Homo sapiens: one gene and its partners. The protein of the gene in region 3 purifies or fractionates together with the protein of the main gene of each other region. This does not show direct contact. Each region holds a gene or a part of one and is shown on either strand. Other genes may lie near its edges.

What was found.
Region 1: the proteins of SLF2 (region 3) and GCFC2 purify together in Homo sapiens (affinity purification with mass spectrometry; one large-scale study listed by BioGRID and IntAct). This does not show direct contact.
Region 2: the proteins of SLF2 (region 3) and ITGA1 purify together in Homo sapiens (affinity purification with mass spectrometry; one large-scale study listed by BioGRID and IntAct). This does not show direct contact.

Annotation. Positions count from the first base shown.
Region 1 is NC_000002.12:75,669,348-75,673,005, forward strand, and holds part of GCFC2 (intron Large complex component GCFC2), read right to left. Parts: exon of another isoform or gene 2,969-3,658; intron 2,670-2,968; coding exon 2,603-2,669; intron 938-2,602; coding exon 791-937; intron 1-790.
Region 2 is NC_000005.10:52,955,279-52,958,936, forward strand, and holds part of ITGA1 (integrin alpha-1 precursor), read left to right. Parts: 3' UTR 1-3,658. UniProt on the Homo sapiens protein: Integrin alpha-1/beta-1 is a receptor for laminin and collagen. It recognizes the proline-hydroxylated sequence G-F-P-G-E-R in collagen. Involved in anchorage-dependent, negative regulation of EGF-stimulated cell growth.
Region 3 is NC_000010.11:100,922,843-100,926,500, forward strand, and holds part of SLF2 (SMC5-SMC6 complex localization factor protein 2), read left to right. Parts: intron 1-1,132; coding exon 1,133-2,130; intron 2,131-3,106; coding exon 3,107-3,177; intron 3,178-3,658. UniProt on the Homo sapiens protein: Plays a role in the DNA damage response (DDR) pathway by regulating postreplication repair of UV-damaged DNA and genomic stability maintenance.

The DNA of each region.
Region 1 (3,658 bases), on a different chromosome or scaffold from region 3:
CACATTCCCCAGTTTTAATAATAATCAATTAATCCCAATACCTTTTTGATCCACTAAAGTTTTATATTTTTTCAAATTTATTACTTTTTCTCATAATTTCTTCTTTTGCCTTTAAGTTTAGAAGGAACTCCCTCACTCTCAAATATAGTCATTTACCATCTTAGTATATTTTATAGTTTCATTTTTACATTTTTTAAAATTTTACCTGAAATTTTTTTGGTGTATAGTGAGAGGTGAGGACTTAACATTCTTTTTGTAAACAGCCAGCCATCTAGCATCATTTATTAAGTAATTTTTCCTTTCCCTACTGGGGATATTTCAAACCAGTATACTCTTTCTTAAATACAGAAGAGCGGCTCTGCATTTTAGCTTTGTTAAATTCATTTGTCAATTTTTTTTTTTGAGATGGAGTTTTGCTCTTGTCACCCAGGCTGGAGTGCAATGGCGGCTCACTGCAACGTCTGCCTCCTGGGTTCAGGCGATTCTTCTGCCTCAGCCACCCAAGTAGCTGGGATTACAGGTGTTAGCCACCGCACCTGGCTAATTTTTGTATCTTTAGTAGAGACGGAGTTTCACCATGTTGGTGAGGCTGGTCTCAAACTCCTGACCTCACGCAATCCGCCTGCCTCAGCCTCCCAAAGTGCTGGGATTACAGGCATGAGCCACTGTGCCTGGCCCATTTGTCTATATATGAGTACCACACATTTAATTATTTTGCTAAATAATAGATTTTAATAGCTAAATTTTTTAGAAATGATAAAATTAGAATCAGTCTTCCTTCACAACTTACCTGGTTGCACTTTTTAACCACATCTGGCCCAGGTGTGGCATTGAGAAGTGCTATAATAAGGTAACGATTTAGCAGCTTCCCTAGTCCTAGTTCTTGCAAGGTGTCATCTGTAAGGAGTCCATTCCAAAGAAGAATATTGCGGAAGAGCTAAAATAAAATATCAAGTAAATATGTACCTTTTCTCCAAAGAGAAACTGTAATAGTCTCTAACAAACATGAAGAGTTGGTCAAACTAAAATTCTCACTACAATTAGCCCTGTTGGAACTGTCAATTTTAGAATACAATATCTCTGAATAAATACTTGATTCTTTCCAAACTCCATGTATTTGCTCATCTTATTTTCATTTTCTAGGATAACCATCCCCAAATCTATCTCAAATAACTTCACTAGAGCCTTTCCAGATCAATAATCTTCCTTCCCAATCCATTTTCTCTCAAAGCCGGGGGCCATCAAGTATAAGACCACAGGACCACGTGATTCATAAAGAACTACTGTCAAAACTAGGGCCGCCATTACCAACATGTGACCTTGAGAAGGCAATCAACGCTGAGAGCTTCATTCCTCTGATACATAAAGATTTATAATCACCTTTGAGTTTGAAGATAACTTGGATTAAGTAACCATAATAAATTCTAATAAAATATTGGTTGTCCTTTCCCTCTACTAAATTCAGATCTTTCTGTGAATTTTAAGGTGTTTCTTTTTTTGCAGTACTATATTCATTACTCTGAGTGCTGAACTACATGCTGTTTTACTAAAATGTAATGCTTTTTCACATTTTATCTCATTGTTGATGTTGTTCCCTCTTCCCAGAAAGCCTTTTCCCTGATTCAACCACATGACAAATATTAATTCACACTATTAAAACTACTCTTGGTGAGGTCACCTATATCCTTCTAATTGTCAAATCCAATAAACAGTGTTTCAGTCTTTCTCTTAATACTCTTTGGTGGCATTTAACACTCTTTTCTTCATTCTTGAAAATCTTTCATTTAGCTTCCTTGAGGCCATTCTCTTGTGATCATCCTAAGGCTCATAATTGATTCTACAGATTCCCTGAAGCCTCCATGTTCTCCTCTTCTGTTAGTATTTCCCGAGGTTCTGTCCTTGGCCTACTTCTCATGCTTCATCCAGTCTCCTTACGCAGCTTGCCATTCATGACCATGGCTCCAAATATTACCTACAGGTAGTGGACTCCCAAATCTCTAGCTCAGATCTGTCTCCTGAAATTCAGACTTATGTATCCAACCACCTCCTAGACCTCTGTATCTCTATTTGTCCCACATATATCTTCATTATGTACAAAATAGATCTTATCTTCCCTTGATCAGTTATCGACTCCTTTCAATGCTTCCTCCCAAACATTGTTTGAACCTTCTTCTCCTTCTCATCCCTACTGCCACTGACTTAGCAATAATTTTAAGGCCAGGGGTTAGCCAACTATATAGCTTGTGGGTTAAATCCATCCTGTTGCCTGTTTTTATAGGGTCCGTGAGCTAAGAATGGTTTTAACACTTTTCAAGGACGTTTTAAAACTGTCTTTAAACAAAATATTTTGTACCATGAGGAAATTATATGACATTCAAATTTCAGTGTTCATAAGTTTTATTCAAACAGCCATGTTCATTTGTTTATGTACTATGACTGTTTTTGTGCTACAGCGGCAGAGTTGAGTAATTCGACAGAGACCATGTGACCACAAAGCCTAAAATACTATCTAATTCTTATAGAAGAAGTTTGTTGTTCTTTGTTCTATAGTAAACAGGATTTTTACAAAAATTGCCTTTTCATTTTTGCAGTTTTTGCTCACCTTTAGGCCTGACCAGAACTGTCTTTCTTGGAACTTTGAATGAGGTGATGTTTTGTTTTCTACAGCACTAATTAGAAACAAACGAAAGAGAAGAGAAAATGCAAAGAACTATTAGTCTTTCAGAACCAGAGTTTAAGATCAGACTTTCTTTTAAACCAACCAAACTAAGCCTTAATGGAATATAAATAGAGATTGTTTATTTTATTTTATAAATAAAATATATATTTATTTATAAAATATATATTTATATATTTATAAATATGTTTATAAAATATATATTTATATATTTATAAATATGTTTATAAAATATATATTTATATATTTATAAATATGTTTATAAAATATATATTTATATATTTATAAATATGTTTATAAAATATATATTTATATATTTATAAATATGTTTATAAAATATATATTTATAAACAAATAACTAATATATCACATTCATACATCTGAACCATGTGAATGCATTATCTAAAACATTATAAACAAAGTTTACCAAGGCAGAATTTTTACATGTAGACATCTCATGATTCAAAATGAATCAGAAAGCTTTGAGGTTCCTTTCTTCCCCCTCCATAAAGCTCCTCCATCCTGTCACTACTCACTGGATTGCTACAGTTCATGCATCATTATAACTGATGGCTTCTTAGCAAAGTTATGATCATACATCAAATACTCGTTTTATAATTTAAAGTGACTGCAGAATTTACAGGTGCAGTTTCTCGTTCCTCAGCATTGTGCTTCCTCTGTGCTAGGCCCTGTTGTGTTCTGAGCATTCTCTTCATCTCCCTAATATCCTGTGAGGTAGGCACTAATTTTATCCTTATTTTATAGATGAGAAAACAAGTGCATAAAAATACCTACTAACAGTGGACGTGTGCTCTTTACCACTCTATATCACCTGCTATGTTCCTAGGATATATGTAAAACCAAAACCAAAACCAACCAAACAAAATTCATCTAAGCGCCAAGATAAAGCACGGCTTTATGTAAGTCACTGAGAAATATTTGTTGAAATCTCAATTTGCATCCTCATAGAGTATGTGTACA
Region 2 (3,658 bases), on a different chromosome or scaffold from region 3:
TCTGCCACCTCTTACCAACCAGTGTGAGCTGACTTCAGCACACCACTGAGACAGATTACACGATAGACAGATAGATAGATAGATAGATAGATAGATAGATAGATAGATAGATAGATATTGATAGAGAACATGTTGTGTCTATATACATATCCAATGACACACAGTATAATCATGTTTTAAATTATGCCAAAAGTACTGATTATATCAAGCCCAGTAAACATAATGCTACACAGCACCCATTCTTTAATTTTGATTTCTAAAATTATAACCTTCCTTTGATATTAATAAAATGTTATGAACTTGCAGGAGAAGGAAGGAGTTGAAAGAAGGAAAATATAAAGGGTGATCCACAGTGAAAATCAGACCTACACAAGCCACAAAAAAATTGTCTCATTTTCCCAAGGAATTCAAAGTCCTGTGATACACATTACAAAAGATGACACTTTGTAAATATTTTGAACTTCTATGATCCAATTTCAACTTCATTGGTCCAATTTGTCAAACTATTTTCCTCTGAGCACTAGATTCATGGGCAATTTAATCTCTGAATATTTTCTGTGTCATAAGTGTGCTTGAAAAGAGGCTTGTAGTAAACAGATATTTTTACAAAATTTGATGCTTCTGCAACCATAATAATTTTATCTATAAATGCGTATATACATATATATATATATATATATACACATACACTCACATGCAGATATTTACATATATAGATATTCTCTTTTCCTTTTATAAAATCAAAGTCTAGGCTCAATTGGAAAATGGAAATATTTGCACCAAAAGAAAAAAGTGCCATTGTTGTGATCAATGGAGTAAAGCTGGGGTATAGTAGAGGCTGGGGAATCCCTGCCCATGTTCTCTCCAAGGCCACAGCTTGCACACCGTGAATGGTGGCCCCACTGGCTCCATGGAGTGTGCCTTCACGCGGGGGAATGTCCTTGTCCAACACGCTGTAATCTACTCCATGGGAACTGACTGTCCTGCTTTTCACAACATTGAGAAACAGGCCCAGAGCCTGTCTCATGTGCCAGGTGCAGTCACATTATTGTTAAAATAAAGTGGCTTCTGACAAATCAGTTTTTCAAAATAGCATCCTATGTACTTTTCATTTCTTCCAACAACCCTCAGGCCCCCTTTTGCCAGTTTTCTCCCCCAGGGGAGATTTTCAAGACTACTGGAGAAAAATCTGTTAATAAAACATTTGCTCTGAGTACCAGCTTCAGTGACTCAATCATTTATACAGGATTTCAGTGTTTTGTTCTGCAGCGGTGTTCTAAAGGGTTCACATAGTATAATGGAGGAGGGACAAAGCAGAATATACTTCCAAGCTGGAACATCTTTAAGACATTTACAAACTGTTATGGGACACTATCAGCAACTACGCCTGGGGAAGCTAGCAGGATTTAGCTCTTCAATGGCCCTCCAAATGCACCCAACAATCGCCAACCTCACCCATGGAAATCATCTAAAAAATGAAAAGAAGGGCCTTAAAGTCCTCACATGGATGCTGTATTTATAACTAAAATGTACAGTTTAATTCTAAATAGCAGGCTTTTAAATGCAAACAGCTTCCAGGTGAGTCCTCTGGCTGCCAATCAGACTGCTGATTCTAAACCATTCTCACACAGAATTTCTGAAACCAACACCAGGTATTAATTGTTAACTGCAGTGAAAGGAAACCAAGGCACATTACAAAAGGCTAAATGCTGCTGTTTCTAAGTGGAAGCACTGTTGAACAACACTCTTAGGTGGAATAAGAAAATTAGGGTTAAACTGTAACATTGTAATCGGACGAACAAATCAGCATCTTTGATCCTCAGGTTAAAATTTAATCTTAAATTTAGAAATTCAAAGTAACAGCCTTTAACCATTAACCTTGAGGAAAATGTGAAGTAGCATCTGGAGTCTCTTAAGCCCCAGCCCTGTTGTCCCCTACAGCATCTCCACCCAGGAAGTCCAGTTCCTAACTAATGGGAATGGATCCTTTTCCCATTATAAAGGGCCGATGCTTAACCCTTGAACCCACTACTGTTCTTATGCCCCAAGATCTGCACCTTACATCAGGCACCCGGGAATGCTTCTCATTGAAATTTTACCATACCAAAAAATATGTAAGGGTGACTCATCACTCCTAACTTTGGACTCCTTGCTTTGAGATCGGTATTTTTTTCTCTCTCTTTACATATAGCAAAAGCTTTCCCCAGTAGCTGATGAATTTAGAACTTTATACAAGACTCCCTAGCATTTTCCTCCTCCCACAGGCTGGAGAATTTCAGTGCTATGAGACTGGGCAGTAGGAGCCAGAGCCAATTTGCAGGATCTCTTTTCCTTCTGCCTTCCAGTTGGCTTCTCTTCTCAGCTGCGTGGTGGGGATGATTTGGGGTTTCCTCAGCAAGGCCATTCTCTGCCTTGTGCCCATAGCAGGGCCTTGGGTGGTGACATGTTATCTTTGTTGGTGAGCAGACACTCAGAGATCCTTTAATTATCTGACACACCAGGGAAATCTTGGCAATCAACTAAGGACCTGTGACACTCATAACTATGTTTACATTTGGCTTTAGCATATTTCAGGTAATATCTTTATGAAAAAAAGATGAAGTATGGAATTGTAGGAACTCTTTTGCAATAGACTGAGATCCAATGTTTAAATCTTTTTATTTCAGTTTGATCTGTGCCTTTAGATTGGGGACAAAATTTTAAAAACAAATCTTCCAAATGACACCACAATGAAAGCCAGTTGTGGTCTTGAAAAATCTCTCTATTGCATTACTTATCCTCACCCTTGTTTTTTAAGAGGTAGAGAGAGATTACTGGGAAGCAGTGAGCCAACATAATTGTCCTTTCCTCTACAGAATAGCTGTGCAGAAGGGGACCACCACACTTAGGACCAGTGCCAGGTGACAATCTTTCCGTCATGCTGCTGCAGCATTTTGCACCTTGAGAGACAGGAAAAAAAATGGGGGTGAGGGAGTGGAAGATGATGAAACTATTTCTCTTTTATGTCTACATCCTTACTCCTCAAAATACTTTAAGCTCACTCAGACCCCATATACCCTGCCCACAATACTAACACATGTACTTTGCATAAGTAAATTGTTGATTAAATAAGAGCAAAACTATATTCTTATGTGTAGATTAACCAAGGCTAATTTCCTGGAGTTTAATACACTTTGGATTCAAGTAAAAACAATCACTTAATGCAGCAACATCTCAGACCCTCTTCACTCTAGAACCGTTTTATACAAGAGAACTCAACATTTACTGTTTTATTTCTGATATTGCCTGCCATTACTCAGGATGCAAGAGATGCTCTGCATTCCTTATTAGGAAAAATTGGCCTGTAAGGAGAATGGTATACTGCGTATTACTACTGTGAGACTGTAAAATTGTTAATGGACAGTGTAAAGAATTGTATTCATTTTATTAGCAAGAAAAATATTGCATACAAGAACTACTGCCCTGAAATATCCATCACTCCAATGAACTGTTCTGCCTGATCTAACATAAAGTTATATTTCATTGCTCATTTTTTTTTGCCTCACTAAAATGACTAACTTAAGGGAATGTGCATTTCTACAAGACTTTAATTGGATAAACTCATTAGAAGAAAATGTTTCGATTGCATTCAGGAACAAAGAAGCATAACCTTTGTTGA
Region 3 (3,658 bases):
TTGGCTCAGTGCAACCACCACCTCCCAGGTTCAAGCGATTCTCCTGTCTTGGCCTCCCAAGTAGCTGGGAGTACAGGCACGCACCACCATGCCTGGCTAATTTTTGTATTTTCAGTAGAGACAGGGTTTCACCATGTTGGCCAGGCTGGTCTCAAACTCCTGACCTCAAGTGATCTGCCCACTCCGGCCTCCCAAAATGCTGGGATTACAGGTGTGACCCACCGCACTCAGCCCACAATATGAATTTTTAAAAACTGGTTCATTCAAATGTATGTGGTTATTAAAGTACTTCTGGATGGGGCTATAATAAATATAGCTTATATTAGTTTCCTAGGGCTGCCATAACAAAGTGCCAAAACCAGGGTGGCTTAAAACAACAGGAATTATTGTTTCACAGTTCTGGAAGCTAGAAGTTTGAAATCAGGATATCAATAGGGCCGTAATGTCTCTGGCAACTCTAGGGGAGAATACTTCCTTACCTCGTCTAGCTTCTGGTGTTTGCCTGCAATCTTTGGCATTTCTTGACTTACAGCTGCATCACTCCAGTCACATAGCATCTTTTCCTTGTGTATTTTCACCTTGTATTCCCTCTGTGCATGTCTGTCTTTGTCTCCAAAGACAAAGACACCTTTTGTAAGTACACCAGTCATACTGCATTGGGACACAGCGTGATTTTTTTTTTTTTAATGAGAAATTAACATTTATCTGCCTTCAAGTGTTTATCCTATACGTGTTTTAAGGTACTATACATTTAAATGTAGAAGTGTTACATTTCTGCAACCAGGTAGTCCTAGGTCTAAAAGAATTTCCAGAAGTACCTATGGCATCCTTAACTTGGTACAAATATGCAGTTGTTTGTTTTAGGGAGTGGCATCTTTAATTCTGTTAAGGTGGTAAACTTTTCATAGCTTTGGAATGAAAATGAGCATTTGTCATTAGCTTTAAATTTCTTGGACACCAGTATTTATCCAGTTGATAAGTAACTCTTTTTCTGCATTCCATATATGGTGACTAATCTCAGCCTTAATACTTAGAATTTTAAACCTTTCATTAGGGTGTTCTAGACACTGAATAAACTTTACTAAAGTTGGAAAGTATATTTTTCACTAATCTAACAAAAATTAAATTTTAGCAGGCTCTAAGCAGAATAAATTCCCTGAAAAAAGAAAAAGGAACTCTGTGGACTCAGATCTGAAAAGCACAAGAGAATCTATGATACCAAAAGCAAGAGAGTCCTTCCTTGAGAAGCGTCCTGATGGACCACATCAGAAAGAAAAATTTATAAAACATATTGCACTGAAGACACCTGGTGATGTGTTGCGCTTAGAAGATATATCCAAGGAACCGAGTGATGAAACTGATGGCTCTTCTGCAGGCTTGGCACCTTCAAATTCTGGCAATTCTGGCCACCATTCTACCAGGAATAGTGACCAAATCCAAGTGGCAGGTACCAAGGAGACTAAGATGCAGAAACCCCACTTACCTTTATCTCAGGAAAAGTCTGCAATTAAAAAAGCTAGCAACCTTCAGAAAAATAAAACCGCTAGCTCCACGACAAAGGAGAAGGAGACAAAACTACCTTTACTTTCCCGTGTTCCAAGTGCTGGTTCCTCTCTAGTACCATTAAATGCTAAAAATTGTGCTCTTCCAGTTTCTAAAAAAGATAAAGAGCGTTCCTCATCTAAAGAATGTTCTGGGCATTCTACAGAATCCACCAAACACAAGGAACACAAAGCAAAGACTAATAAGGCCGATTCTAATGTATCTTCAGGGAAAATTTCTGGGGGACCTTTGCGCTCAGAATATGGCACTCCTACAAAGTCTCCCCCTGCTGCTTTGGAAGTTGTGCCATGTATCCCAAGCCCTGCAGCACCTTCAGATAAAGCCCCTTCAGAAGGAGAGAGTTCAGGAAATTCCAATGCAGGTAGCAGTGCACTGAAAAGAAAACTAAGGGGTGATTTTGATAGTGATGAAGAAAGTTTAGGTTACAACCTAGACAGTGATGAGGAAGAGGAAACATTAAAGTCACTGGAAGAAATAATGGCTTTGAACTTCAATCAGACTCCTGCAGCTACAGGAAAGCCTCCTGCTCTTTCCAAGGGGCTTAGATCTCAGTCATCAGACTATACAGTAAGTAGTTCTGTGACGTTTATCTTTACTTGAAGAGGGAAAGATGATTAATTAGTGAAAGGGGTGGATTATCGGAACTTACTTTAAAATTTAGTATTTATTATAACTCATATTTGTACTGAAAATGGAATAATTCTTGTTTGGTAAATGAGTTTCCATATCTTTAGTTTTATTACTGTAAGTCAGTGGTCTCCAAACTCTTTTGATCACACACACTTAACAATTTTTGAGCATGTACCCCAACATATATGTATACCTTTAGATTATATATATGTACCACTGTAATACTGTGTACTTTCTAAAGCATATGCAAAAACAGAATTTAAAAGGAAGAAGAAGAGAAAAATAAGTATTTTCCTGTAGAAGTGACGTAGAAGTTACTATAGACTAAGTTCTACTGGAGTCTCTATAGAAGTTCCATATAAATAGAAGTTCTATTATTTTCTTCCTGCACCCCAATGGATCACCTTGCACACCCCCTGCTTTGGAGACCACATCTGTAAATGAAGGTAGAGTGTAGAAATGTTGTTGATTGTGGTGTGCAATTTTATTTATAAAGTGCTTCATTCTATCTTGGGAATAAGCTGAATTAAATTCTAAGATGTCTGTAAAATTTGGTGGGGAAGGTGTTAATATTCCATGGTAACACCTAAAAATTAGTAGTTTGATTCTACTAAAATAGAATTTAAAAGTAAAGACAGGGTAGCCACAGAGTCCTTGAGTGTTTGCAGTCACATCTCAAAGTTAGCAGGGTTTTATAAGTACTGCCTTTCCTAATAGGTAGTAAAATCAAATTGTCTGCAGTGCAAAATACTAGATTTAAAGCATGATGGTGAAAATTATCCTTTAAGAAAGGTGTTATCCTGGCCCAGATTATTGAAATAGAAAATAGTCTTTCGTACCCTTAATTACTTAAAACATCCCAGTTCTTCTACTAAGACATGTGGTAAAGTATTTCTAAATGTTCTTGTTTTAGGGACATGTTCATCCTGGAACTTACACAAATACCTTAGAACGTCTAGTGAAGGAAATGGAAGACACACAAAGGTTTGTTAGCATAAAGATTAATTTGCTAAATTTAACATTTTGCTTGTTTGTGTGGCTTACTTTTAATTTACCTTTTTTAAAAAATCATGAGAAATTAGCGTGCATTTTGGACTCTGTTGTCAACTGTGTTAGAATAAGATATGTTGGCCGGACGCAGTGGCTCATGCCTGTAATCACAACACTTTGGGAGACCCAGGCAAGATTACTTGAGCCCAGGAGTTCAAGGCTGCGGTGAGTCGTGATGGCGCCACTTCACTGCAGCCTGGGTGGCAGAGTGAGACCCAGTCTCAAATGAAAAAAAGAGGCCAGGTGTGATGGCTCATGCCTGTAATCCAGTACTTTAGGAGGCCAAAGCAGGCAAATCTCTTGAGCCCAGGAGTTTGAGACTAGCCTGGGCAACATGGTGAAACCCCATCTCTACAAAAAATACAAAAATTAGCCAGTCATGGTGCCACATACCTATGGTCCCAGCTACTCAACA